Linked DNA regions of Homo sapiens. The protein of the gene in region 2 interacts with the protein of the main gene of each other region in a pairwise test. Each region holds a gene or a part of one and is shown on either strand. Other genes may lie near its edges. The genes, in order: HMOX2, TRIM69, KRT17 and FAM110A.

Region 1 (8,163 bases), on a different chromosome or scaffold from region 2:
GGGCCACTATGGATCTGCTACCACTGTCAAAGTTTCCCTCTTCAGCCCTAGCAGCTGGCAGCCCCCAATAGTACCTGCATGTTATACTCAAAAGCCTTGTTGGCCTCCTCCACGATCCTCTCTTTGGTCTTCATGTTCAGGTCCAGGGCGTTCATCCTGGCCCGGTAGAGCTGCTTGAACTGCTGGGCATTGTCCACATTCTCAAACAGGTAGAACTGGGTCCCTTCCCCTGTGCTGGGGAGTTTCAGTGCTCGCTGGGCCACCTTCTTCAGCACCTGGCCCCCCGAGAGATCCCCCATGTAGCGGGTGTATGCATGGGCCACCAGTAGCTCCGGCTCGTTCTGCCCTATGTAGTGGATCCGCTCCACGTACTTCTGGGCAGCCTTGGGGCACTGCACCTGCTCCTCCCAGTTTTCACCAAAGAAATACTCCATGTCCTTGGTCAGCGCCTCCTTCCGGTGCAGCTCCATGGGGAAGTACAAAGGGGCAAAGGCTGGATGGTCCTTGTTGCGCTCCATTTCCTCCTCGAGGGCTGAGTATGTGAAGTAAAGTGCCGTGGTGGCCAGCTGTGGAGGTGACAGGAGGAGGCCAGCTATGCCTGAGCACACCACATCCGAGCAGCTGGATGCAGAGGCTCAAGTGACAACCCCCAACCCCAAAGACCCAATCCTATGGTCCATTTTTATGTAGTGAATTATTTAACACACAAGGAAGCTTTTGTTTCTTAAAGGAATGGCATGGTGAAGTCTTTGGAACACGCATACTTTTGCTTCCTTCACACCACTATGTTATTCTATCTAAGCCATGAGAACCAATTTTTTTTTTTTTTGGCGGGGTAAAGAGTCTCGCTCTGTCACCCAGGCTGGAGTACAGTGGGACGATCTCGGCTCACTGTAACCTCCGCCTCCCAGGTTCAAGTGACTCTCCCACCTCAGCCTCCCAAGTAGCTGGGAGTACAGGCACGCGCCACCACACCCGGCTAATTTTTGTATTCTTAGTAGAGACAGGGTTTCACCATGTTGGCCAGGCTGGTCTCAAACTCCTGGCCTCAAGTGATCCACCTGCCTCGGCCTCCCAAAGTGCTGGGATTACAGACATGAGCCACTGTACCCAGCCGAGAGCCAGAGCTTAACGTCAAGAAGGAATGGAGTGTGGAGAAAAGCCCAGCTTTTCCCTCAGAGTGGCTCCAGGGGCACTTTTCTCATGGGACCAAGGCCCCCACCCCAACCCCATATGACAGTCTGGAACCCAATGCGGGGCACAAACCTTAAACAGCTCCTTCTTAATGTTGCCTTTCAAGAAGTCCTTGACAAACTGGGTGTTTTCTGCCCGGTCGTGTGCTTCCTTGGTCCCTTCCTTCAGGAGCTCCGAGAGGTCAGCCATTCTGTGGAGAGATGGGAGGTGTTTGTGTGTCAATTAGCCCTTCCCAGCTTTCCAGAAAGGACCATAGAGAGAAGATTGAGTCCACACCCCAAGGTGACCACCTGTTGTACTGGAGGCTGGGGCTTCTCAGACACTTCACTCCAACACAAATAGCAGCAACTTGTCAGGGAACACAGGACAAGCAGACATGACATTCTGCTCCAAGGACTCAGGACACAAGGGATAACTGTGGCCTGCTCCTTGAGAGTAGTACCCACGTCCATGTGTCTGTGTTGGGAACCACCCAAATGAGCAATGCTTTGCTTCTGTGGCCACCTAGTGGTCGAAGAGACACACATCTGTATTCCCTTCAGTATTTGCTGGCTTCTCTAAGAACAGCCTGCCTTGGAACGTGTCTTCTGGAATTCACACACCTCAGTAAGGCTGTGACCATGGGTCTCCTCAGATGGCCCTACTGCCTTCCTCCCACCTTGGACCCACAGCTTCTTTGAGACTATATGTGACTAGGACCAAGCACGGAAGGATGCAAAGGAGACAACCGAGAGGCTAGGGCCAGGACGCTGGGTTTGTGCTGCTTAACGAAATTACACAGTTGTAAAGGTGTGTGGATGGATGGACAAGGTAGAAAACATGTGATCCTAAAGATGGTGGTACTTGGGCAGGGGCTTACATGTGTCCACACAATCCATCTACAAGAGTGAGAAAAATTTGGCCTTATCATGGTCTGGCTTCTGCTGTCTTCTTTAGGAGATTAGCTCGTTATCATCCATGTGCTGAGAATCAATTTATTATTAGCAATTATTTCAAGGGATAAAAAAAAAACTTGGCCAATGACAGGGCTATGAGAGGCTAATGATGCAGAACAGGGCCTGGAAGCTCAGGTTTAGCATGAGCTGTCCCTATACAGAGTAAGGAAAGGCTGCCCTGCAGTCTTTTATGTGGTAAAAGACTGAACAGAGCCAGCTTTGCCTGCGTTTACCCTTTCTCAGCCCAGATGAGGAAACGCACAAGTTTTTAAAAAGAAAAAAGGATAACTACCATCAAATCCTATCAGCACTCCCAGGAGCACCTGCCCTGCCTCCTTGGATGAGACAATGGACCAGTGGGGAGAGTTCTAAGCAGCCGAAGCTGTATGCGGTCCCTGCAGGGCCAAGCAGGCACCCAGGGGTCCAGAGCTCATGGCCCATGGCCACTCCCCAGTGCTGCCAACAGACAAAACCAGGTGTGCTGAGCACGACAGGTGCTGGGCCCACCTGATTCAGTGCAGCCAGCCCCCATCGCTCACCTCATTTGGTTCTCCTTTTCTAGGGCCCCAGAGTTCTTTTTTTCTGACTCGTCTACCCCCTCTGAGGTTTCCACTTCCGCTGACATTGCTGCTGGGTGTGGTTCTTGCTGCTCTCGCTCCTCTGGTCCTGCAGAGACACAAGGAGCTGGTGATGTGGCACCCACGGCAGTCACTTCCCCAAATACCTGTCGGTTCTGCTTTCCTCAGAGCGAATGTAACCAAGGTGACACCCACACACCCCAGGATTGTTTTCTTTAAAATAAAGCTCTGCCATTACTGGGACCATAGTGGAATATGGAAAAAATCTGAATATGAACAATGTATTAGGTAATAGCATTGTATTGACATTAAGCTTGCTGGTTTTTAAAAATAATTGTACTGCGATTATATAAGAGAATGTCTTTGTTCCTAAGAAATACACACTGGGGTATTCAGAAGTAAAGGTACACTGCCTGCAACTCCCTGTCAGATGGTTCAGAAGACAGTGTGTGTGCATGTGCATATGCTGCAGGGTGGGGGACACTGGCAAGTCAGAAAAGCAAACAAGGCAAAATCCTAGCAGTGAATCTGGGGAAGAGGTATGAGAGTTCTTTGTACTATTCTTACCATTTTTCTGTATGCTTAAAACTGTATCAAGGCAGGGCACAGTGGCTCATGCCTGTAATCCCAGCACTTTGGGAGGCCGAGGCAGACTGGAGTTTGAGACTAGCCTGGTTAACATGGTGAAACCCTGTCTCTACTAAAAATACAAAAAATAGCCGGGCATGGTGGTGCACACTTGTAATCCCAGCTACTCGGGAGGCTCAGGCAGGAGAATCTCTTGAGCCCAGGAGGCAGAGGTTGCAGTGAGCCGAGATCACGCCGTTGCACTCCAGCCTGGGCAACAAGAGCGAAACTGTCTTAAAAAAAAAAAAAAAAAAAAAAAAAAGACCGTATCAAAATTAAAAGTTAGGCCAGACACGGTGGCTCATGCCTGTAATCCCACCACTTTGGGAGGCCAAGGTGGGTGGATCACCTGAGGTTAGGAGTTTAAGACCAGCCTGACCAACATGGAGAAACCCTGTTTCTACTAAAAATGCAAAATTAGCCGGATGTGGTGGCGCGTGCCTGTAATCCCAGCTACTCAGGAGGCTGAGGCAGGAGAATCACTTGAACCTACGAAGCAGAAGTTGCAGTGAGCCAAGATCGCGCCACTGCACTCCAGCCTGGGCAATAAGAGTGAAACTCTGTCCAAAAAAAAAAAAAAAAAAAAAAAATTGAAAGTTACCAAAAACAAAGAAAACCTCAAAAACCTTAGGGAAACAAAAAGCTTGGCAAGCAACGCACAGTTCCACCCCTCTGCAAGCGTGCTGAGGCCAGTTCATCCTACCTGTGAGAGGCTGGGTGCCTTGTGCAGAAGGCAGCCTACAGGAGTTACCAAAAAAGCAGACTGTCCCTAGCCTACTCAGGACTTTGCTAGGCTGAAGGAAATATTAAGTTGGCCAATCAATTCCCATTGCCTGCTGCAAATGCTGAGCCTTTGTCAGCCAGGGAAACACAGTCCCATAACAAGGCAAGCTCATCCTCCATCCCTCGGGGCTTCTGCTCAGGCAATGTAAGGCGCAGCCCATTTGGGGAATCTTCCACATGAATAGCAGCACAGTAGCACCGACAACTAATAAAGTAACTCACAAAGACAGAACTGGGGCCAAATCAGGCCAAACTGGGCCAAGGAAAAAGAACTTATTTACTGAGCATTTTCTATGTGCTCTACCCAGAAACAGGTGTCAAGAAGAACACAGAAGTGTTAAGAAATGGTCCTTAAAAGGCCCAAGGCACATATCCTTCCTGAGTTTTCTCTAGATACCTAGTTACATTTTTGTTATCTTTTAGGATATTATAGTACATGGTTTGCTCACTGAGGTCTTTTTGAACCATCTCTCTCACCTTTAGATTTAGCATCTCTACTGGGATTATTTTAGGAAGTCAAGCAATAACTCATATAGCACAATGCCTACCATGTGATAAGCACTCAATGAATGTTACATCATGATCATACTTTATTTTGACTGAGGCTTAGTGATGTCTGAGAACACTCAGAAAATAAACATCGGGATGTACAGAAAAATGGAACCTTCTCTTGACTCCAAATCAGAGACACTCTACTCTGCAATAATGCTGATGAACTGTACGATGCACAGCACAGTCTAGAAGAATGTGAAAGCAGGCAGGTATTACATGCAGGGAAGAGTATGCAGAGGGCTTCCTGGGGCAGGACCCTCAACACAGACAGGATTTGGGGCAGGGCTGGGGGAGGGCCTCCAGATCAAGGGAATATTATGAACAAAGCCAGAAATGGGTAGTTCACAGAGATAGCATAAGGCTGCCCAGCTGTGCGTCCACTTACCAAGGGGCAAAAACAGGCATTGCAAGCTGTAGAATAAGCCTCACATGGGCCTTCAGACCTTGATTTATAAATGTTTTCTTTTTTTTTTTTGGTAAAAGTACAGCTTTGCTAGCCGGGCGCGGTGGCTCACGCCTGTAATCCCAACACTTTGGGAGGCCGAGGTGGGCAGATCAGGAGGTCAGGAGTCCGAGACCGGCCTGGCCAACATGGTAAAACCCTGTCTCTACTAAAAATACAAAAATTAGCCAGGCATGGTGGCACACACCTGTAATCCCAGCTACTCAGGAGGCTGAGGCAGGAGAATCGCTTGAACCTGGGAGGCGGAGGTTGCAGTGAGCCGAGATGGAGCCACTGCACTCCAGCCTGTAATCCCAGCTACTTGGGAGGCTGATGTAGGAGGATTTCTTGAGCCTGGGAGACAGAGGTTGCAGTGAGTCGAGATCATGCCACTGCACTCCAGCCTGGCCGACAAAGTAAGACTCTGTCTCAAAAATAAATAAATAAAATACTTTAAATAATAAGAACAGCTTTGCTGTACACCCTTGAGGACCCTGAGAGCCAAAATTTGTCTCTGGCTGCTCAGTTCTCAGGCAGCAGAGAAAAAGGTGCTGGGATGAAAACACTGAGCTATCTAGAGGAGGGAGGGGTGCAGTAAAGGGTCCTGGAGCCTCTAGATGGGTGATGGAAGTAAAGGACCAGGCTGAGGGCACACACACACCAGGCTGAGGGTCCAGGTACCCCAGGACCACAGGCCCCATGCTTCTTACAGGCAAAATGAGGCAAAGACAAGTGCCATCCATGGCCCAGGTTACCAACTGCAGTAACTTCAGCGTGCTTCTTGCCATTTGCACCTACTTATCATGCTGCACAACAGTGATAGGGAACGTGATTAAATCTCATTAACTGTGTTTTACTCAATAATAACTGCATGCTCTGGGAGAGTATAGTCTTGCTTAATTAAACAACAAGTCCTTGTGCTTCTCCGAAAAATACAAAAAGGAGCCAGGCACAGTGGTTCGCACCTATAATCCCAGCATTTAGGGAGGCCGAGGTGGGCAGATCACCTGAGGTCAGCAGTTCGAGACCAGCCTGGCCAACATGGTGAAAGCCCATCTCTACTAGAAATACAAAAATGAGCCAGGCATGGTGGTGGGCAATTTTTTGTAATCTGCTGTCCACGACTTCAAATTTTCTACACTCAAAATAGGTTCTACCGATTTTACTTTGAAGGAAAGCTAACAGGAAGAATACTGAGTTCTCAAGGCGGGCTGAAAGTACCAACTACCATCTGTACAGACCTGGGGGCTGGGGGCAGAGGAGGCTCCTGGGAAGGCTCGGTTAGCATATTCAACCCACAGACTGGGGCCAGGGGAGGCGACCCTGTGGCCTAGCCACTGTCCAAGGGAGTGGCCACACAGTGTGGCATTCAGAGGCCACCTTGCAACTGCAGAAACATAATTTTTTTTCACTTTCTGAAAAGCTACATGTCCAGACTTAGTCTGGCTGGTTTCTATACTTGAATGCTCTTTTCTTTGCAGGAACCATTGGAATCTCTAGAAAATTGAGGGCCAAATCATAAATATAGAACCTTTTTAGACTTCAATGTCTAATATCCACAAGAAGCTACATGTTCCCCACCCCCACAAAAGAGAAAAAAAGATCCTAAAATATTCCACTCTGGGAAATACACTTCAAGAAATAGTAATAGTAATTGTAATCTGTATCAAAATAATACCCAGCCATACTATGATGTTAGGAAAAAAACAACACACAGCCTAAGAACAAAGGGCATGACTGCTCAAACAACAGTCAACAATGGAATCCTGGCACAGCCGGGGCAAGTTGATAAGCTGTGTTCATGCATGGAAAAGCCTACAGAAACTTTTTATTTTTTTAAAAAGGATCCCAAACACCGACTATAACTGTGTGCAAAAGTATACTGATAATGACAAGTGGGAAATTTGGAGAGCTATAAATACTTGTTTTTTGTTGGACTTTTTAGCCAACTGGCTGCTTCTTTTATATGGAGTGACTCAATTCTCTTGGAAAGAAAAAGGGAAGAGGGAGGGGAAGGCAGCGAAGGGAAGGGAAAAAAGAAACCGAGAGACAGGAATTGGACCAAGCAAACCAGCTAAGATCCCGCACTGCATTAACTAACTAGTCAATGGAAGCTCCTGGGTCCTCTTTTCTGTTACAAATTCTAGAAAGGCCAGTCTACCCTCTCTCTTTCCCATTTCCAAAAAACTGGGACCCTCTGTTTATAAAATCTACCTCCACTACTCCATAATTCCAGTACTCCTAGCTGTTCACCTCATCAGCTGCTGATTCTCATTCCAACACCTGAGCTAACAGAAGCAGTAACAAAGTTCCTATCACAGTTACTTCAAGCAAAAGAGGTTCCTTTAGACCAGCTCAGCAGATCCAGAACACTGTCTCAAAGCTTTTGCTCCTGCTAAATTGCTGGCATGAGGCACTACCAGGACTTCTGAGACAACGAAGATGGTAAATCCTCCTCCATGGAGACTAAGTCCAACAAATTTCAGGTCAGGTAACTCAGTGCATTGCTACCAGGTGGGAATATAATCTAAGGACTATATTATAATTCATTTCCCATCTGGTCATACAGAAAGGAACAATAAAGACTTCTTTGCCCTGGAGAAACCTGAACTGAAGGAAGAGAGCAGGTTGCTGAGCTCAGCCAGCACCGAGAGTAAGCAACAGCAGACTGACTCACTCCCTGGAATGAGAACAATTCTGCAGGCTTCTGACTCAATGAAATAGTGACACTTGACAGTGACCAGCTACTACACTGCATGAGATGCCCACAACATGAACTCGGGTTGTTACCCCACAAACACAGGGAGGCTAAGTGGCTGCTCAGAGACTTCTGCACTGGGACTCCACGAGTGCTCCCTCCCTGCTGAACACCTTGCAGTTGGGCATCAGGATTCTTACCATCACCCTGGATGGGGGTCCCCTGCCTGCTTCCTAGAAGGCTGTTTGCAGCTCAGAGCTCACTCCGATATAAAATTGCCACCATATTAATATGAGGTGATTACGCTTCAGCTTCCACAACTGACTGTCATCCTGTCTTCCCAGTTAAACCAAA
Region 2 (8,163 bases):
CAGCCTGGGCAACAGAGCGAGACTCCATCTCAAAAAAAAAAAAAATTATGCTAAGTGAAAAAAACCAGAAGACACAAAACACTACATAATGTATGCTATCACTTAGACAAAAATTTAGAAAAGACACATTTAAAGTGAAATAAAACATGTCAGTGAATGTTAGAGGCTGAGAGTAGAAGGAAGAGATTGATTTCAAAGGGGCATGTAGGAACTTTTTGGAGTGATAAAAATCTTCTATATTTTGATTATGGAGAGGTTTACCTAAGTGTATATATACATCAGAACTCATCAAATTGTGCCCTTAAAATTGGATAATTTTACTCTATGTTAACTATATCTCAGTATAGTTGATTTTTCTTCAATGTCAATTACCTGGAAAAATTTGCGATTTTTCATTAAATCAGGGATATATTTGTGATTTCTCATTAAATCAATAACCATAAACAATAATAATAATGATGAGTCTATGAATTCTATAAAAACTCTATTTAGAATTTTATTTCTATAAAGATTTTTATTTAGAACTTTATTTGATGTTCTTGAAATGCCATGTGTGTTATTTTATCTTGCTCAGTCCTTTGGTATCTACAGGAACACAAAAACTTAGTGTCCTTCTTAGGTATGTTTATTTAAATTATTGGTTTTCTTCTGAAGCACTGAAGATCTAAACAATCTTCTAAAATGTTCTACGCTATGAACATCAAGCACAAAAGAAACTGTAAAGACCCAGTGTACATAAAAAGAGTATGTTCAGAAACCTCCTCCTTCTTCAGAGAAGCCCCTGGGATTCATATAGCTGATTTAGCAAAACAAGATAAAATTTTGGCTGTTGCCACATTTCATAAATCAGTCAAAATCATATGCTAAGAAGTAATCCTGATATCAAACTCATATCTATTTACCAGCACAAAGTCATAAATTCTTAGGTCATGGTACTAGAAGAAATTCAGTCATACCAACTAGCCTCCTTTTGGCCAAACTGTACCCCTTCCCTATCCCAGACTGTAAAAACTTAATTAGGGCCACAGAAGAAGTCCCACAGATTAAACGTAGATTAGGAGCCTCAAGAACCAATAGTTACTACCCACTGATACCTGGGCAGAGAGTGTCCTGCATTTCCCTCCATACCATGTACTGGATAGGACCTTTGTACTGGCCCAGGTTCAGCTTTCTGGAAATAAGCTCTCTGGTTGCCAGCACCTTCATTCCTTGCTCCAAGCTGCAGGGCACATAAATCATTTATCCTTAGACATCCTCCAGAGACTCAAGGAATGATATTAATAGTACCATAGGGAAACACTTACCTATGTAAGAGAGTTGTGATGTCCTAGAAGAAAGGAGAAAGAGAGACATCAGATGCCCGTTCATCAACTCTCAAAATTTCTTTGGTGATACCAGCCACCACCAGAATTTGTGCAGATGGTCCCGAACTCATCTCTACCAACTTCTTTCATCCTTCATACACTTTTTCTAATCTTCATCCCTGATCCTAACCCAGGTTAAATTGATCTTTTGCTCTTTCTAGAGTTCTCTTCTACAGGGAGCAAGACAGAAGCCAATAAGACAATACTTAAGGTTAAGCTATCTTTACCTATACTTTCAAATAGTCTCAGAAGAAAAACACATTAGGTATCCCAGTCCCAAGGCCACTTTTCCTTACTCTAGCTAATTAAACTTCTGAGTGCTGAGATGGTAACCAACGCTTCTTTAGAGGTGAAGCTTAAGAAAGCAAAGGTTAGAAAACAGCTTTTCAGACAGGTCAGCTTATGATTGCTGAGAGCCAAAGATACAACTCAGGCTGCAACATTTTTATTTTTGAGAAATAAAGCATCAAGCTCTTTATGGAAAAATATTAAACCATTACTATATACTATTATTAATGGAATTTAAAAATCGTATTTCCTAAGAGGATGAAAGTAAAGCTTTCTGCTGTGCGTATAGCTGAAGCAGCCTCCTCCTTTTCTTCCAGAGAATCTTAAAAGCACTATAACAGTTTTGTTTTGTTTTGTTTTGTTTTCCCTGGATGTGAAAAGCCACTTCCGCATTCTTTCCAAACCTCTTCCCCCCTCTAGGTAGGAAGGTACCCATAATCATATTGGTGTGGATTCTCACTTTGAGAAAGTCGAAGGAGTTCTGTTGTTCCGTCTTTGCCTGAATGCTCACCAACATATCCTTGGCTAAGAGACATTGCTCCTGAAGCTGGCTCAGATTCAACTCCATCTCCTCATTCAAGGCTTTCCCCTCTTCCCGGAGCTCAGTTAAAATGTCCTTTTCTTTGCTGTGCAGGAACTGATGCAGCTTTAGAAACTCCATGGACACATGTTGCTGCAGATGTAGCTTGTTTTCCTGGAAACCTCCATGATTATCACCATGGTTATTGCAGAGACTAGTGCTTGGGGATGGGGGCCCACACCACCAACACTCACACACTTGGTAAATACCATCACAGAAAAATGCATACAAATGGCTACTGAATATCAAATTCAGTCATACTAAAATGAGTCCTTTGGGAGACTTACTCCTTTTCCAACTAATTTAATAGTTCAGGATGAAATAGGCAAAAGTGACCTCCAGTTTCCTATTGCAGTACTGAGATGGTAACCAATGCCATATTAAATAAGACTGTGGAGTTAGTCAAACATTCTAGAATGAAAGATAATACCCTCCTAGATTGGTAATCCAAAAGCTGCCAAGTGGTACTGTTAGACTGGGGGTATTGGGAGGCTGGAAGAACTGTCCTTACCTAGAAATCAGAACTGGGGGAATGCCACTGTTACACTTGCAGCTTTTTCCTTGGGTTACCTCAACATCCTCACAGTTAAACTATTTGACATCCTGGCTTCTCAGTTCCTCATTCTCCTCATTTCTAGTGATTTCCACATTTATTGATTCATTCCTATAGTCTCACCTAGGATTTTATCACCCCCAGCAATTGTATCATCTCCAAAATAACTTTTTATGCACCAGGCTCACTCAGATACTCCTATTGCAACAATTATTGGATCTCATTGAAACCTCCTATTCACCGATCCCTCCATTTCTATTCAGGAACTTCTACCTTCATGTCCTCTCTTATCTAGCTTGGATCCCATGGTCCATAATTATTATTGCACCTTAAGATAGTCTTGGCTGGGCACAGTGGCTCATACCTGTAATTCCAACACTTATAGAGGCCAAGCTGGGAGGATTGCTTGGAACAGGAGTTCAAGACTGGGCAACATAGTGAGACCCAGTCTCTCCAAAAATAAAATAATTAGCCATGTGTGGCAAACTAGTCCCAGATACTCAGGAGGCTGAGGTGGGAAGATCTCTTGAGCCCAAGAGTATGAGGTTACAGTGAGCCCATATCCACCTCATCAATATCATCTTGCTTAGCATGTTCCAGCTTTATTGGCCTTTTCTCTGTTTAACATAGCAGCTAACTTTCCATCTCAGGACTTTTCCAGATACTCTTTTCTATTCCTAGAACATTCTTCTCCAGGCTACCTCCTTCATATCCCCACTCACCCAGTTCACTTGGATAAGTTACTTATCCTTCAATTCTCAATTTTTAATGTGACTTCTTCAGAGAACACCCCTCCCCCAGTCTAGATTATGTTCTCCATTTATATGCTATCATCATACCCTATACTTTCAGTTATAGTACTTATCACAGTTGTTATTTTATTATTACTCATGGGATTATTTAATTAACAGCTGTCTCCCATCCCCAATATCTAGTATTATGCCTGACCCACTCAATAAATATTTGTTAAATGAATGAATGAATGCTCACACTAATAGGAACTTTTACAAAAGGAACAAGATTTTCTGAAGACATCATTACTTCCATATATCCTTCTTCTTTCCCTGAGTCTGCATATTTTTTTCTTCCAGATGCCAAATACCTGAGAAGGCTCTTCTCCATAGAATAATGAATAAAGAAACAGAACTTCCAATTTAGCACCCCCAATCTAGGGACTGATTTGCCAAAGCTCTAGCCATTAATGTTGTCCTAGAGTGCCTATGAAGTTGAAAGTGCAGACAATAGCTTTATTTAGCTTGGAGGAAGCTAAGAAGATCAAATCAGCTGGGAAAAGCCTATGACCTTAGAGACCTAGTCCAGAGGTGTCTGGTTATAAACTCAAAGGAAATAAAGGTATTTCTTTGGACATAGCAATCTTTAGTGATTGATTTTTTTCTAATAAGTTCCTTTTTTTTTTTTGCCATAGATAAAGCCAAAGACCAGACACATTTCAACGCCACGACAGTCACCTGGTGACTGAACTATCGAAAAGATCAGCATATTAGGGGAAAGGTTAATCTGCTCTGTTGATCAGCTATTAGGAACCTACTCCACCACCATATTCCTTTCCACCCTACAGACTCAGTTTTCCAATTCCATAGCCTAGGTACCATTTAGTGTGTAGATAATATATGTTAGGCACCTTTGTACCCATAGCTGAAGTTACATGGAGGGTGTGTTCCAGTTCTATCTCATAACCCCTCTTTCTTGCTCCTCACCTTGTGAGCAGCAATAGCTTCCTTCTGCATGTTCCTCAGGGTCTGAAGCTCCTTCAGAGTTGTCTCCAGTTGACCCTGTTGGATGGCAAGCTCCTCCTGGGAATATCAAATAGAATTAACCCAGACTAACTCGGGAGATGAAGGACCATAAAGGACATCTTCCCCAAGGCCCCAGTGTGCAAGAAAAAAGCAAGCTCTTGCTGCAAAAATCTTCCCCTTCCCCTGTATCATAGTTCTTGTCTCGTTCAAGAATTGTGAAAAAGAAAAGAAAAGGCCGGGTGTGGCAGCTCACATCTGTAATCTCAGCACTTTGGGAGACTGAGATGGGAGGATCACTTGGGCCCAGGAGTTTGAGACCAGCCTGGGCAACATAGTGAGACCCATCTCAAAACAAAGAAAAAAAAAGAATTATGGAGTAAATTACAGCTTAAAACTTAGTTTTTCTCTCTTAGTAGCTAGCTACAGGGATTTGAAGAAGGGAATAGAACTCTACACATTTTCCACTCTAGTTATATACTGTTCTCAGCATCTATCATTTTACTTGTGTTGTTCTCACTTGGAACATTTGTTTCTTCCTTCTGCCCTTCAAAATCCAAATGATTTCCCAGTTCAAGTCCTTTCCCTTTCTTTCACTATATGTCCCCTATTTCATTTTTCTCTAATAGTCTCAGAAATTCTAAACCCTTAAGAATTACAAATGTGACAAAATTTAACTTTTAACACGAGGCTATCTTAATATTGCTTCTGTTGTTTTCTTCATTTTAAACTTAACCAAATTTTGAATTTTTTATAACAAGAGCAATATCTTATCTATCCATATTCTACACAGTGTTTAGCAGAGTGCTACCATGGCAGAGTTTAGGTACAGATTTGATTGAGGGAGTAAGCCAGGGCTCCTCCACTGTTCCTTTCCTATAAGCAGCAACTCTAGAAAAAGAACTTTGCAAGATACGTTGTACTTTCTGAGCAGTCTGGGCTTTCTAATCATCATTTGAATAAAGGGATGGGGTTGGAAGAAAGAAGAAGCCCTATGAAATATTTTTCCTAGTTTTTCTAAGGGATTGTTCAAGGCCCAGGGCTCACCCACCGTGAAGAAATGGACAGCATCAGAGATTTGCAGGAACTCCTTAGACTGCCCCACAGACAACCGAGCATCCTTGCATTGAAAGCAGATCAGTTTCCCATCTGGTTTACTGAACAGTTTCAGGTTCTCTCCATGCTCTGGGCACTGTGGATGGCCCTTGAGTAAGGGTAACTTCTTAATCTTCTCTACCAACTTGTCCAGTACAGGGTTGAATGTACAGTTGTTATACTGACATAGCATCTTACACTCAGGACAGAATGTTTCCTTTGCTTGCAGCCTCCAAAAGTCTTGGATACAGGCTTCACAGAAGTTGTGGCCACAGCTTAGCATCAGTGGGTCTCGGAACCAATCATTGCACAGAGGGCAGTGTAGCTCCATAGTAATATCTTGTATCACCACTTTAGAGGGTAGGTGGGTGATTGAATCATTCATTTCAACATAGTCGCCTGGATCGATGTTGGAGGAGGGGTTGGTGGATACCTTTAGAAAAGAACAGCTAAAATGAGTTTATCTTTCTTGTTGCCCATTTTAACACTCCAGGATGATGGCGCCATTCCTAAAGGAGCTGAAAATTGGTACAACTAAAGTAAAAGCACATAATCTCTCCTTTGAAAGTGAACCAGTAACTTGAGTGTTTTCTGAAATTATAGCGTATGATGCTATTTAAACTTTAATAAAGAATCAAGGCAGAGGAAGAAACAGTACTAAATCAAAGAAATGTACTTTGTTGTACATCTCTCTCTTTACCCACTTTCCCCAAGTGTCTTTTGAAAGTTTTATTTTTCAACTTCTGCTCTACTAGTTATTACCTTTATTTTATTTTTGTTTTCTAGAAATTATATACAAAGAATTGGAAAATCAATCAGATTCCTTAGTCAGTAGTGTGATATCGTCAACCATCCAGGGTCCCCTTCACTCCTTTTTAAAAAAACACATTTCAGGCCAGGCGCAGTGGCTCATGCCTGTAATCCCAGCATTTTGGGAGGCCAAGGCGGGCAGATCACGAGGTCAGGAGATTTAGACCATCCTGGCTAACACAGGATGGTTAGCCATCTCTACTAAAAATCTCTACTAAAAATACAAAAATTAGCTGGGTGTGGTGGCAGGCGCCTGTAATCCTAGCTACTTGGGAGGCTGAGGCAGAAGAATTGCTTGAACCCAGGAGGCAGAGGTTGCAGTAAGCCAAGACCACGCCATTGCACTCTAGCCTGGGCAACAACAATGACACTCCATCTCAGAAAAAAAAAAAAAAAAAGGAATGACCAACAATGAACTGAGCCTAAGAGATCCACAAGACACTATCAAACAGACATAATAAGAATTTCAGAAAGAAAGGAGAAAAATGCAGAAAGAATGTTTGAAGCAGCCGGGCACTGCGGCTCAAGCCTGTAATCCCAATACTTTGGGGTGCCGAGGCAGGTGGACCACCTGAGGTCAGGAGTTAGAGACCAGCCTGGCCAACATGGTGAAACCCTGTCTCTACTAAAAATACAAAAAATTAGCTGGTCATGGCGGCAGGCACTGGTAATCCCTGCTACTTGGGAGGTTGAGACAGGAGAATTGCTTGACCTGGGAGGTGGAGGTTATAGTAAGCTGAGATCACTCCACTGCACCCCAGCTTGGGCAACAAGAGTGAAACTCTGTCTCAAAAAAAAAAATTTTTGAAAAAGTAATGGCTGAAAACTTCCAAAATATGATGAAATTTTACATCCAAGAAGCTCAACAAACTCCAAGCAGGATAAATTCAAAGAGATCCACAATGAGACACATTATAATTGAAGTGTCCAATGACAAGGAAGGAATCTTGAAAGCAGCAAGAGAGAAATGACTCTTCACATACAAGGGATTCTCAGTAAGATTACTAGCTGATTTCTTTTCAGAAAATATGAAAGCCAAGAAGGAGAGAGATGACATATCTGAACTGCCGAAAGAAAAAAACTGTTAACTAAGAGTTCTGTATCCAGCCAGGCACAGTAGCTCACACCTGTAATCCCAACACTTTGGGAGGCCAAGGTGGGCAGATCATTTGAGCCCAGGAACAACATGGCAAGACCCTGTTTCTACTTTTTTTTAATTAAAATTTTTTAAAAATAAAGAATTATATATTCATGAAAAGAGGAATTAAGACATTCCCAGATAAACAAAAACTGAAGGAGTTGTCTAGTAGTCTTAATCTACAAAAAATGCTAGTAGATCTGCTCTAGAAGAAATGCTAAAAGGAGTCCTACATGTTGAAATGAAAGGAAACTAGGAAGTATCTCCAAGCCATATAAAGAAGTAGAGACCAGTGAAAAAGTAGCTACATAGGTAAAGTCCAATATTGCAGTTTTTGGTTTCTAACTCCTCTTTTTCCCCTATTCAATATAAAAGACAAATGCACAAAACAATAGTTATGTGTGTTAATGGATATGCAATGTATAAAGAGATAATTGGTGATAATAACAACAAAAAGGAGAAAACAGAGCTGAAAAGGAGCAGAGTTTTTATAGTAAAATTTTTTGCTTTGTACTATTAAAACTAAGTTGGCATTAATTCACCCTAGATCGTTATAAAGTTGACTAATTATAACCCCCTGG
Region 3 (8,048 bases), on a different chromosome or scaffold from region 2:
CCTGCAGCACCCCCCACCTTGCTGAAGAACCAATCCTCGGCATCCTTGCGGTTCTTCTCTGCCATCTTCTCATACTGGTCACGCATCTCGTTGAGGATGCGGCTCAGGTCCACGCCTGGGGCAGCGTCCATCTCCACATTGATCTCACCACCCACCTGGCCTCGCAGGGCGTTCATCTCCTATGGAAAAAGGGGATGTGGATGTGCGCATCTGGACCCATCCTGACCTCTCACTCCCAAGCCTTCCCCCACAAGGGGACCCCACTTCCCACAAGGACCCCTCCTTTGTTCTCCCTCTGCTCTATCTGACCCTCTAAATGATTTTTATTCATCTGCTCAGTATTGCCTCCACCATCAGACTCTATCTCCCCCATTAGACCAAGGACTCTCCAAAATAAAATCTAATTATTAGGCCTATGCCCCCAAAAGTTCCCCTCTAATTTCCAAGCTTCTATGTAGATGTTCAGCTTTGAGAGTTTGAAATGGGACAAGATTTCCTTACTTATCCCCCACCCTCATGAGGGAGGCAGGGTAGGTAGAGGGAGCCTCTGCAGGCCCCTGGGAGGTTCCTTGTGTACAGAGAAGCAGTGTGGTACAAAGAGGAGTCTGCCCTGCACACTGGACCCCAAGGATCAGGGCTCTGCAGACAGGGAAGCCCTCTAAGGTGACTAATCCCGGTGCACCTGCTCTGCTCTCTCCCACGGCCTCAGCCATTGCCCAGCCCCAGGGCTCTGCCACCCACTCCTCAGCATCTTTGACCTTCTGCCCCAGCCACCTCACCTCCTCGTGGTTCTTCTTCAGGTAGGCCAGCTCCTCCTTGAGGTTCTCAATCTGCATCTCCAGGTCGGCTCTGGCCAGGGTCAGCTCATCCAGCACCCTGCGCAGGCCATTGATGTCGGCCTCCACACTCAGGCGCAGGGCCTGCTCTGTCTCAAACCTGCCGTGGGAATCAGAGACTTCAGCCCAGGCTGCTTGGACCTGCAGATCCAGGTCCTGGCTGCTCACCTGCCTTCATTTTGCCAGGACTCTAAGGAGTTGGAAGGGCTGATGAGAGGGTCGAGTGGAAACGAATTCCAGCCCCGGGACCCCGGGACCATCACAGGGCCAGATCCCACGCCCACCAGCTTCCTTACTTCTCTCTGCCTCCCGCCTCCCGCCTCCCCTCCTTCTCTTCTATTCCCTGCCTAAGCTCAGCAACCTTCAGAACTGGCTGCCTTCACTGCATCCTGGACTAAGGAGTGGGGCTCCTAGGACTGCCCCACCCTGAGCTCCTGGGCCTTGCCACAAGCAACCAAGGAATCCTGGGGTCAGGAGGGGTACCCTGAGATCCTCCGCCAGCTGGCCCAGGCTGCCCAAGGCCACAGCTAGGACTCACTTGGTGCGGAAGTCATCAGCAGCCAGACGGGCATTGTCAATCTGTAGCAGGATGTTGGCATTGTCCACGGTGGCTGTGAGGATCTGAGGAGAAGGGAGAGTAGTCAGGTCATTGGATGGGGGTGGCTGAGCCCACACCAGGGTTCTGAGCAGATCTTCCTGCCTCAGGGCCTCTCTTCTCGCCCAGCCCCTCCCTTGCCCCGTGCTGTATTATTGGCAGAGGAGGGGCAAACAGGAGTCTGAAGGGCTGAAAGGTGCCTCTTCTTCCCCCGATACTCAGTACCCCACCAGACCCCCATGGCAGGCTCGGCCTTAAAGGAGAAGAGACAGCTGGCTGGGAGTATGAGGCAACCAGAAAAGAATGGGAAAATGTCCCCAGGGCAGAAGCTGTCCCAGAATTCTAGAACAAGGGAGGGGATGTGGGCAACCCCCTCGTTTTACAGTCAGCTAGAGGGTGCCCCTGACAGGCTCCCCCAAAAGGAGGCTAAAGGAGCCCTCATTAAAGAGTGGTTCCAAATCAAAAGTCAGGACCCCTCCTAATCCCTAACCCTGGGCGCCAGCCAGCAGCCCCGCCCCCTGGGGTTTGCTGAGCCCGTCTTAAGGGACAGCAGGAGGAAAGGAGAAGCCAGAAAAATCCCCAAATAAGGCACATCAGAGGCCTTCCCCACACTGAGGTCCCGCCCCCTCCTTTCTGCCTCCTCCTGCAGCAGGTGCTATCAGGAGCTCACTCAGACACCCCCACTCCACATCACCCAAAACCCCCTCCTGTTGACCCCTGCTCCAAAGGAGCAAGACACCACACATCCAGCAGCCCACGGGCCCAGCCCTCCATCTGCATCCTCCTGCCTCATCCTACAACCTCTCCAGGTGGCGGAGCTCCACGAGGGAGAAACTGAGGCTCCAAGGGGCTCCACAAGGCCTCTTTGTTCCTGACTCAGCTTGCTGTCCCCAGAAAAGGGGGATGTGAGCCACACAGGGGCCCCAAGGCAGGTTCCCAGAAGCTAAGCCACAGCCAAACCACCCTTGGCTCCCTGAGACCCTATGGCTGGACTCCAGGCCTTTGGCCAAGGCAGGAGTTGGGGGGAAGAAGTCATGCCCCCCGGAGACCCCTCCCACCAGCAGGCCCTACCTTGTTCTGCAGCTCCTCAATTGTCCTGTAGTACTGGCTGTAGTCACGGGCGGGCCCCGGGGCCTGCCTCTGGTACCAGTCACGGATCTTCACCTCCAGCTCAGTGTTGGCCTCCTCCAGGGCACGCACCTTGTCCAGGTAGGAGGCCAGGCGGTCATTGAGGTTCTGCATGGTGGCCTTCTCACCTCCAGCCAGCAGCCCATCAACACCCCCAAAGCTGCTGCCATAGCCACCACCAGAGCCAAAGCTGTAGCAGCTGGAGTAGCTGCTACCCCCGAGGGTGCTGCCCAGGCCGCCAGCAGATCCCAGCCTGCAGGAGCCGGCACCCAGGCCGCCAGACAGCCGGCAGGAGGTGCGGGACGAGCCGCCCCCCAGGCCGGAGGAGCCCTTGATGGAGCTGGAGGAGGTGAACTGGCGGATGGAGGTGGTCATGGTGGCGGCGGCAGGAGGCAGGCACACAGGAGAAGGGCTGGAGAGGAGAGGGGCCCCAAGTTGTGTAGGGCTGCCGGGGTTCGCCCGCTTCCTTTATAGGCCACCAAGTGGGCGTAGCGATTACAACAGGCTTGCTCCTCTGTTTCCATTCCCCTGGGCTTTCATCACCACTGGCCACCTGCCAGCTCCCAGGTGGCTGGGGGCCCCCTCCCCGCCCATCATCAGGAATTTGCCTCATTTCTCCAAATCCTCGTGCTGAGTGCCGTGCGTGTGCGTGCCTCTGGTCTCAGGCCCGTCACCTGTGATTCAGGCGGGCCCTCCAGCTATGCTTTCCCATGACCTAATACGGAGAAGAGGAGAAGGCAGGACGTCACCGTCCCCAGGCCCTCCCAGGCAGCCACCACCCCAGCCTGGCCCGCCTCAACCCTGTCTGGTGGGGAAATGGGTTGCAGTGTCAGCTGACCCCCCCGCCAAAGTTGCTGTCTTTCACCCCACACTGCTCCACCCACGGTGCTGGCCCCGGGGCTGGGTGCTGAAGAGAAAGAGGAGACCGAGAGCCTATCCTGCCTTGGAAACTGAGCCCAAACCCACCAGGCCCACCTCACAGCATAGAAATGCCATCAAGCCTCGGAGACCAACCCACATCACAGATAAAGAAATTGGGGCTCCAGAGGGGTGCCGTGTCCACACTGGCCCCTTCTGCAGAGCCTGACACCCAGGAATGCACTCTAGGGGCTACAGTTCCATCCAGTCAGCTTCTGACCCTGCCCCATCCCTAGAAATCCTTGCTAACCCAGTCTCTTCGTGTAAACCTTTCCCCAGGTTTACACTCCAGGCTGGGGTGGGCAAACAGGGGCTCAGCTATAGGATGGGGAAATGGTGGGCTGTGCCAACTGAGAGGGGGATGCCCCCTTCCACTCCCCTCACCCTTCTGTACCCCAAGAGACCTCAGGGTCAGGTGACGGGTATTTATCTCAGGTCTCAGCCCACAGGAAACCTAAAGGACATTGCCCAAGAAGAGGCTCTTACAGAGACCCCAGCCAGCCCCCTTCCCACTCCAGGCTCCCCAAGATGTGGCTCCTCAGGTGGGCCATGTGCCCCACCCCACAGCCCCACCCTGCCCTGCCCACCACCCCAAGCCCGGCCCTGGGTCCCAGGGTCCCGCCAGGCCCGCTGGGTGGAATGTGGTCATGTTTCAGACTGCCGATGGCTTCCACTTCCCAGACAGGCCCAGACGGCCCCGCCAGCAGCCGAGAGACATTCCTCAATAGCCCAGTGGCTGCCAAGCCACCAAAGCAAACAGGATGCCCCCTACGCGTACACGCACAGCGGCCACCCCGCCCCACACACACCCCGAGCTGGGGCAGAGCCGGTCTGGTTTCCTGGGCTGGCTGCGTCACTGCCATGCCCTCTCACTCATCAATGCCATGGACCACTCCTTCAGAAGCCCCTCCCCACCAAGCCCCTCTCCTTCTGCTCTTGAACCCGCCCTGGGCTGAGGCAGGGAGTGCTCCCCAACAGGCACCATCCTTGGAAAGTCTGTGTGGCCCTCCCAGGGACCAGCCACAGGTGACAGGGACTCAGGGGCTGATTCTTAGAAACTTTTCCCAATACAAGGGGCTGTCCCATCCCTCCACCCTTAATCTTTCCGCCTCCTCCCCTCTCATCTTTCCAGGAGCCCCAGGCCTGGATGGAGTGGGCAGAACAGATTGGCAGGTGACAAGCCCATACCCAAACACTCAATAAACTCCACCTCCCCCAGTCCCTCAGCCCACACTGCCCCAAACCAATGAGCAGATCAGATCACACGAGGCATTGAACTTGGAGCAAAGCTTTAATAGTAGGCACTGGACAAACCCAGGAGGCCTCCTCAGTGAGGGGCTGCAGAAAGTAGATACAGAAAGACAACAGGCCATGCACCGGGGCCCAGACGGACACTCGGGGCGTGGCAGTAGCATGCTGGGAGCTGGAGCTGATGGCTGTGCCGTGGCCCTCGAGGTGGGGCTGTCGCAGACAGAAAGGGGTCTCAGTGGGTGGAGAAGTGGACCTGCTCACAGAAGAAGACCACCTCTCCAACCTGGACTTCCTCCACGATGGCACACCTGGTGGCTGGTCACTGTGGCTGCAGGCGATGGAGGAGGGAGGCACAGGGAACATCAGGCAGGAGCTCTTCCCCCCGCCTGCCCCCGCGTCTGTGGTCCCCCCAGTCTCCCACACAGAAGGGTCCTCAGCCTCTCCCCTGCCTTGGGGTCCACACCGCAGGACAGGGCAGCTTCTTACCTTCCCGGGTGGGCTGCGAGGCCAGGGACAAGGAGTACTGAGTGGCCAGCCTGCAGGGAGAGAAGCACCCATCAGCCCAGGGATGCCAGCCAGCCCAGGCACCTGCAAGCACTGCTGGGGAGAAGTAGGCCCTGGCAGAGGAGGTTCCCCTAAATTGGTGAAAAATCACAGTTGGGAATGCACAGAAATTAGCGCAGGCCCAAGAATGAAAGGGCAGGGGTTCAGCACAGCAGGAAGAAGAAAAAGAAACAGCACAGCAGTAGGTCTGGCGGCACTCTGTGGCTACTCACCAGGAATTTACAAGGAGAAGCTGAGCAAGTGGTTTTTCCATAACCCAGAGGGCCCAACAAATAGACCCAATTAAAGCAGGAGAGACTGTTGTTAGACTATAGATGGACTTCACCATTTCCGGGGAGCAAAAAGCTGCAACGTGTGACTAAGCATGGAGACTCCGGGACACTCTCAGCTGAAGGCCTGATCACCCTTCCCAACTGCAAACCCAACCACCACCCACCTTGCTCTTCACCACTCACACAGTCATCAGAACCAGAAACCCAGGGCCATCAATGCCTGCTCCTTCATGTGTTCTCCCGACACTTACTGAGTCCTGACTGTGAGCCATGCTTACCCCGAGATCCAGGCATCCAGTCCCGCTGTTTTGAGCTATAACCTCTCTTCTGCGTGCACCACCTTCCTTCCCCTGCCCCACTACCCACCACCGCACGGGACTTCTCTGGCCAGACTCCCTGCTCCAGCCCCCTGACACATCTCTCTGGCCCCGCCCTGACCCCTCTGATCCATTTCTCCCTCTGCAGCCAGAGTGAATGTTCTAAAATCTCTTGATGTTCATTTCACTCTCCTGCTCCAAATCCCTCCATGGCTCCCCATTGCCTACGTGATCTAGTCCAGACGCTTTAACTTGGCATTCAAGGCTCCTCAGCCAGACTCCAGCCTGCATCGTCAGTATCACCTCCTGCAAACCCCAACAGGTTCCGACATTCACACCTCCTGAATTTCGCTGGTGCTCAGACACCAACTTCTCCCTGGGTGAAGCGGGCCCCCAGCCCACCCCAACAGGCACCCTGGTACACACTCACTGGGCGTCCTCAACCTCCAGCAAGCGGCGGTAGGTGGCGATCTCCTGCTCCAGCCACGTCTTCACGTCCAGAAGGACCTGTGCTTGTGGTCCTGGTGCTCCGTGTCGCAGCAGAGCTCGCACAGCTGCTGCTCCATGCTTCTGTTAAGCCCCTGCAGCTGGGCCGGCAGGGTCCTGTAACACACCTCCATCTCCACCAGGCTGCCCTCCAGCGATGCTTTCTGTGGGCCAAGAGATAGGTGGTGTGATGAGCTGGACCTGGGACCCTTCCCCATGGCAGAGCACTAGAGAGGAGCCCCTCCTGTATGGGGCTGTGGGTGCTGCCAGCACAATGAGGTGGTAGTGCACCCAGCCACTGAGTGTGAAGGGACAGGCTGGGTGGGGACTCTGGTTCCCCAAGCAGGGGTCTACAAGGCTGGGCTCACCCTGGGGTGACAGGTACAGGGTGGGGAGGGGACAGAGACCCTACCTTGCTGAGCTGGGACGGCTCAGGTTCTGCACAGAGACGTAGAGCTCCATATCTCTATCCAGCCACTCTGCAGGGCCTCTGTGTTGGTGGCCACCTCGCAGTTCAGCCCCTCTTTCTGGAAGGCAGAGTGGGCCACAGGGGTTTATGGAGACTTTCAGAAGCGGGGCACAGGAAAGGGCTGCTCCTGAACCCTCACCTCCCAGAACCATCCCCTAGCCCCTCCCTGGCCTCTATGGGGCCCCAAAGGCACCTGCACACAGAGAGCCTCTGCACCCACATTGGAACTTGGAGGAATTCAGCCTGCTCTGCGGTCATTTGCATTTCTTTTTCCTACTGAACTGCAGCACCTCAAAGACAGGCACTGGGTGTTATTCTTTTGCGCCTGTTGCTGTCCCTAGGATACCGGAGATACTCAGCCTGTGCTTGCCAAGGGTATACATATGTATTCAAATACGCACATCCTGTAAACAGCTGTGGTGGAAACCCAAGACCAGACTTGTAGAGACCTGGATCTATTTTGCAGGCCACAGTGAAGGGCTGTGTGAGCTTGAGTCCTCTCTGAGCCTCACGTTTTACATCTAAAACATGAGGGGCTGGTCCAACTGGTTTCCAAAAGTCCTTCCAACTGGGACAGCCTGTGGATCTGCCAGTGCTCCAGCTGCACCAGCATGCAGCACATGTGCCCACACGTGTACACACCTGCTTACGCACGGCCACCCACCATGCTGAAGAACCAGCCCTCGGCATCCTTGCAGCTCTTCTCCACCAATGTCTTGTCCTGGTCACGCATCTCATTCAGGATGCAGCTCAGGTTCACTCCAGGCACAGTGTCCATCTTCACACTGACATCCTCATCCACCTGACCTCAAAGGACGTTCATTTCCTGGGCAGAGAGGACAGCAGAAGCTCACCCAAGGCCATCCTGGAGAAAGACCCTGGGGCCTGCCTTCTTTCCCTCGGAGAGACAGGTACAGATGACAGACAGACAGACACAGATAGGCCAACAGCTCCTCACCCTGAAGGTGGAGGTGGATGTTGTCATTTCTCAAACATACAGGGCTGTGAATATTAGCAACCTCCCCCAACACACACCGTGACGCGGGACTGGAATTCACCCATCCCCAACAAGTGCTAAGCCCCGAGAGATGACAACCCCCCAGCACGGTGGAGGATGACCACGGGCGACCTCACTCACTGCCCTGACCTTGCCCCCACCACTGCCTTGCCCCCACCACCAAGCCCACAGCACAGGCATGCAGAAAGCAACCC
Region 4 (4,226 bases), on a different chromosome or scaffold from region 2:
CCAAGATCGCCAGGGAGGCCACTCATTTTGTGCCGTCCACCCCAAGTCTCTCTTCCTCCAAAACTCCCACTTCTCATCCTCACTCTATGGTCTGTGTGACCTCAAGTTCAGGATTTGCCCTCTCCGAGCTTCCTGCCCCCTTGGGAACTGGGCAGGGCTTGGATGGAACACTCCTGGTTGGGGAGAGTCTATGCACCCCATCGGCCTTTCCCCTGCAGGCTCCCTTTCTGGTGCAGGGGAAAGACCCCATTCCTACTCCCAGCTCTATTCCAGCTCACTCATGGCTGGATCTCAGTTTCCTCCTCGATGAGGCAGGCCTGCTAGCCTTCCAGGAGAGTTATGAGAACCCACCACGGGGACATGTCTCCAGCCAGGCCAGCCGCTATCATCATGCCCCACCACTAGACCTCGGGGTGAACAATTACTGTTTTGATGGCCCCACCCCAAGACTTCTCTCACCCTTTCTCTTGTGAACACAGAAGAGTCTGAAGGCCCAGCCCTTGAGAAACAAGCATTTGTGTTTATTAACCAAGGAGAGGGAAGTCAAAGCAATGCAGACTCCTAACCAGTCCCTCCTATAGTCTGCCCACCTAGGCCAGCTGCCAAGGACTAGGAAGAGCAGTGGATAGGCCCCTCCCCACTGCCCCGACCCCAGGGTGAGTTCTGCTGGGTAAGGAAGAGGAAGTCAGCAAAGGACAGAGGCCAAGGAAGGAAGGAGGAAACAGAGCCGCTGGGGAGACAGGATTGAGGAGATCCCTTGGCCCCTCACTCACAGTGGGGAGGGCAAAGCACCGCAAATGCAGCCCCACAAGAGGAACTAAGCAGGAGTACACTCATGTCAAAAACCTTGTATTGGGGGAGGGGAGGAGGGGGTTCTCAGGTGTCCAAAGCCAAGAACAAAACCCTTGGAGAGTCAGTCCTTGCCCAACAATGCTGGTCCAGCCTCTAAGCCTTTGCCTCCATACCAAGTTCACAACAGGGTGGAGCCTCTGACACGGCCGTCTAGAGAATGGATGCAAGAGAGGTCCAGGGACCACTTGCCTCTGTAAGATCCGTCCTGTGGCGAATTCCAGGCCCAGTGGCGCCTAGCCTTCAGCTGCTGGGCTCTCCCGAGCCTGCCTTAGCCCATACAACCACTTGATCACGCGGGCATTGCGCTCCACCACCGACACGCCATAGGGAACGCGCTCCCGGGCCCGCTCCTCAACAGTCACCGAGCTGCGGCGGGAGCAGCCCCCTTCAGAGCTGCCCGGCCCAGCACTGGGCCCTGCCAGGGACACGATATCCGAGCTGGCCCGTGCCAGGTGGGCCACACCCAACCCTCTCGCCTCCTCCGGGTCCAGGCCGCAGAAGTTAAAAAAGCGCTCGAGATCAGCGGCTGCCCTAGAAAAGCGCTCGCTCAAGTCCGACTTGGAGCGTTGCAAACCCGGCGGCCGGGCTGGGCTGGAGGCGGCGGCAGGGCCGGGTGATGGGCAGGGCCGGGCAGGCGAGGCGGGCAGGGGGCGGACGTCCACCCGGCGGACCGCAGAGGTACTGGGCGGCGGTCGCGGAGGGGTGGCTGGGGGAGGACGGCCGGCTCCCTCGGCCCGTCCAGGAGTGCGGCTGGCCTCGGCAGGGGACACGGGGCTGTCACACAAGTCGATGAGGCTGCTGAGGATGTCCAGGTCCAGCTGGGGCCGTCGGCAGGGGCCAGGCAGGGCTCGGCGGCTGGGCGTGAGCACTGTGCGGCGAGTCTCAGGGCTAAAGAGCGGCTGTTTGGACAGCAGGGGCTGCACAGGCTCCTGGCGGGTGTTGGCCACGTGCAGGCTCTTGACGTACTTGGCCTTGTCGGCCTCCAGGCGCTCCACAGCGCTCGGTTTCCGGGCTCCACCATCTGCCGGCCCCCGTAGCAGGTAGCCAGGGACCCTGGTCCGCAGGCGGCAAGGTAGGGCGGGGGCGGACGGGGCTCCGGGGCTCAGCGTGTGCACAGGCATGGCTGCTGCATATCCCGAGGGCTTTAGTCTGCGGAGACCGGAGAGATGAGGAGCCAGAGATCCGGGCAGAAAGTAGGCAGCTGGACACCGGCCACTGCTGCAGGGAAGGAGAGAGAAAAAAAAAAAAAAGCCGAGCGCGCTCAGACAAAGAGGCTCAGCCGCGGCTGAGAGGATAAGACGCCCTCCCTATTATAAGGTAGAGACCACGCCCCTCCACAAGGAGCCAATCAGCAGGCACAAGGCAGCAGCTGCGGGGCCTCAGGCCCCACCCACACCCCCTCCCTCCTGCCCCGGGAGAACCAGGCCCAGCTGAGACCAAGAGAGGAAAAAAGGTGCTAGAGAAAAAAGACCTGGGCGACCTGGGCAACCTGAGCAGAAAAGACAGGGCAAGGCACGCGCTAAAGGGAGCAAGGGAGGCTCCAGGCTCTGTGCTACGCACCAGTCAACTCAACCTCAGGTCCTCTCAACAGCCCCGTTTTTTGGATGGAGAAACTGAAGCCCAGAGAGGCAAACAACTTGCTTAAGTTAACCCAGCGAGTAGGTGGCTCTGCCCCTGACCACCAAAAAGGAAGGTGCTGGCACCGGGGCGTAGGGTTAAATGACCAAGAAAAAGGGCTCCAGCCCCACACCCCACCTGGACTCCCCACAGGGAGCCTGGTACCACCTCTACCCCTCACCCATCCAGGCAGGAAGCTGCCCTGTGCCATCCACCCGCCTAGACATGCCAGGCCCCAGGCAAAGGGCAGAGCTTATAGGGAAGGAGCAAAGAAAATCTCCACCCGCGCCCCAGTGGAGTCCAGACATCCGTCAGCTTCCTGCATGGAACTGGATGGCCCACGGTGATCCACAAATGCCTGTCACGTGGAAACATCAGCCCTGAGCTATGCTGTGCTGAGAGAAGCTGGAAATGTCCAAAATCACACAGCCCTGCATGGAGGCATCCGGCAGACCCTCGATCTGCCTGCAGCCATGGAATGGGTACTCACCTGGGAGGAGGGCATACACCTGGATGCACAAGTGTCTACGTGGTCACCCAAGTGTCAGGACCTGATGCCCCAGACATCAAGCCAACCCTGACCCTGTTTCCAAGGAAGGGCCAAGCCCACAGAGTCACCCCACAAGGCCCCTTGGAGATGGGACAGAAGAAAACCCACATACCAAGTCCCAAACATTCTCATCTGTAAAATGGAGGGGGCGGGTACTTAATCTGGGTGTTCCCCAAGAAGGCTTACAGTTCAAGCCATCTAGACCCGTGCTGTCCAGCTCAATAGCCAGCAGCCACATGTGGCTATTCAACCTTAACTTTAAATTTAAATGAAATAAAAACATAAAATTCAGTTCCTGAGCTACACTAGTGGCATTTCAAGTTCTCAATAGCCACATGTGGCCAGTTGCCACTGTGTTTGGCAGCACAGAGTACAGCATTTCCATCCATGGTAGGAAGCTACATTGGACAGCCCCACCTAGACATCCAAAAATCCAGAAGGGAGTGAGTCTGGATTGGGGTGGGGAGGCAGGGATCTCTGCTGGGTGCCATCCTCCCTATAACCTCCCACAAGCCTGTGGGTCGTTGTGCAGATGGAGAAACTGAGACTCAGAGAAGTGGCTTTCCCAGGTCCCAGAATAGATAAATAAGGCACTGATCTCAATACCACGTCCTGTTTCTCCCCGGCACTCCTGACCCCCTCCCGGCACTATTCCTTTTCTCCTTATCCCCTGCACAAGTACTCTATTTGTGTATGGTTGTTTTACTCTTTGTTGTCTCTATCCCCCTAAAATATCAGCTCCATGAGGGCAGGCGTGTGTGTGTAGGGGCGGGGGTTGGCTATTTTGTTCACTATACCCCAGTTTCAAGATACTGCCCTAGACACATACTAGGGCAGAATATTCAATAAAAATTTATTGAACTGAAATATTTATGGGAGCCAGATGTGAACTGGGTGATCAGGGATGAACTAGACATCTAGGTACCCTGCCTGCTGCAGGCATATGGGTCCAAGGTGGTAGGTGTATTGTTCCAGGAAGCTGGAAATCCAGGAGTACATAAAAACTCTAGATTCTTAACTGTCAGCATATTCGATAATAATGATTAAAACATTGCATATACAGCAAACAAAATATGTCTGCGAACATATCTGTCCCCTCCTCCTCCATCTGGCCCCCAACCACCAGCTGGAGACCTCTGCAGCAGCCATGAGTTGGGAATAGATCCTTGGGTGCTGCTCCCAAGGCAGGAGAGATGGAGTGGATGGG

The links.
Region 1: the proteins of TRIM69 (region 2) and HMOX2 interact in binary tests that used the Homo sapiens proteins (3 or more experiments, as listed by UniProt).
Region 3: the proteins of TRIM69 (region 2) and KRT17 interact in binary tests that used the Homo sapiens proteins (3 or more experiments, as listed by UniProt).
Region 4: the proteins of TRIM69 (region 2) and FAM110A interact in binary tests that used the Homo sapiens proteins (3 or more experiments, as listed by UniProt).

The regions. Positions count from the first base shown.
Region 1 is NC_000016.10:4,500,116-4,508,278, reverse strand, and holds part of HMOX2 (heme oxygenase 2), read right to left. Parts: intron 5,536-8,163; exon of another isoform or gene 5,320-5,535; intron 2,796-5,319; coding exon of another isoform or gene 2,755-2,795; coding exon 2,669-2,754; intron 1,385-2,668; coding exon 1,267-1,384; intron 567-1,266; coding exon 75-566; intron 1-74.
Region 2 is NC_000015.10:44,752,804-44,760,966, reverse strand, and holds part of TRIM69 (E3 ubiquitin-protein ligase TRIM69), read right to left. Parts: intron 6,068-8,163; coding exon 5,591-6,067; intron 4,600-5,590; coding exon 4,504-4,599; intron 2,355-4,503; exon of another isoform or gene 2,347-2,354; coding exon 2,113-2,346; intron 1,328-2,112; coding exon 1,305-1,327; intron 1,220-1,304; coding exon 1,095-1,219; intron 1-1,094.
Region 3 is NC_000017.11:41,621,576-41,629,623, forward strand, and holds the start of KRT17 (keratin, type I cytoskeletal 17), read right to left. Parts: upstream 3,001-8,048; 5' UTR 2,935-3,000; coding exon 2,503-2,934; intron 1,458-2,502; coding exon 1,375-1,457; intron 937-1,374; coding exon 780-936; intron 180-779; coding exon 18-179; intron 1-17. UniProt on the Homo sapiens protein: Type I keratin involved in the formation and maintenance of various skin appendages, specifically in determining shape and orientation of hair. Required for the correct growth of hair follicles, in particular for the persistence of the anagen (growth) state.
Region 4 is NC_000020.11:842,552-846,777, reverse strand, and holds the end of FAM110A (protein FAM110A), read right to left. Parts: intron 2,136-4,226; exon of another isoform or gene 2,071-2,135; 5' UTR 1,974-2,070; coding exon 1,086-1,973; 3' UTR 501-1,085; downstream 1-500.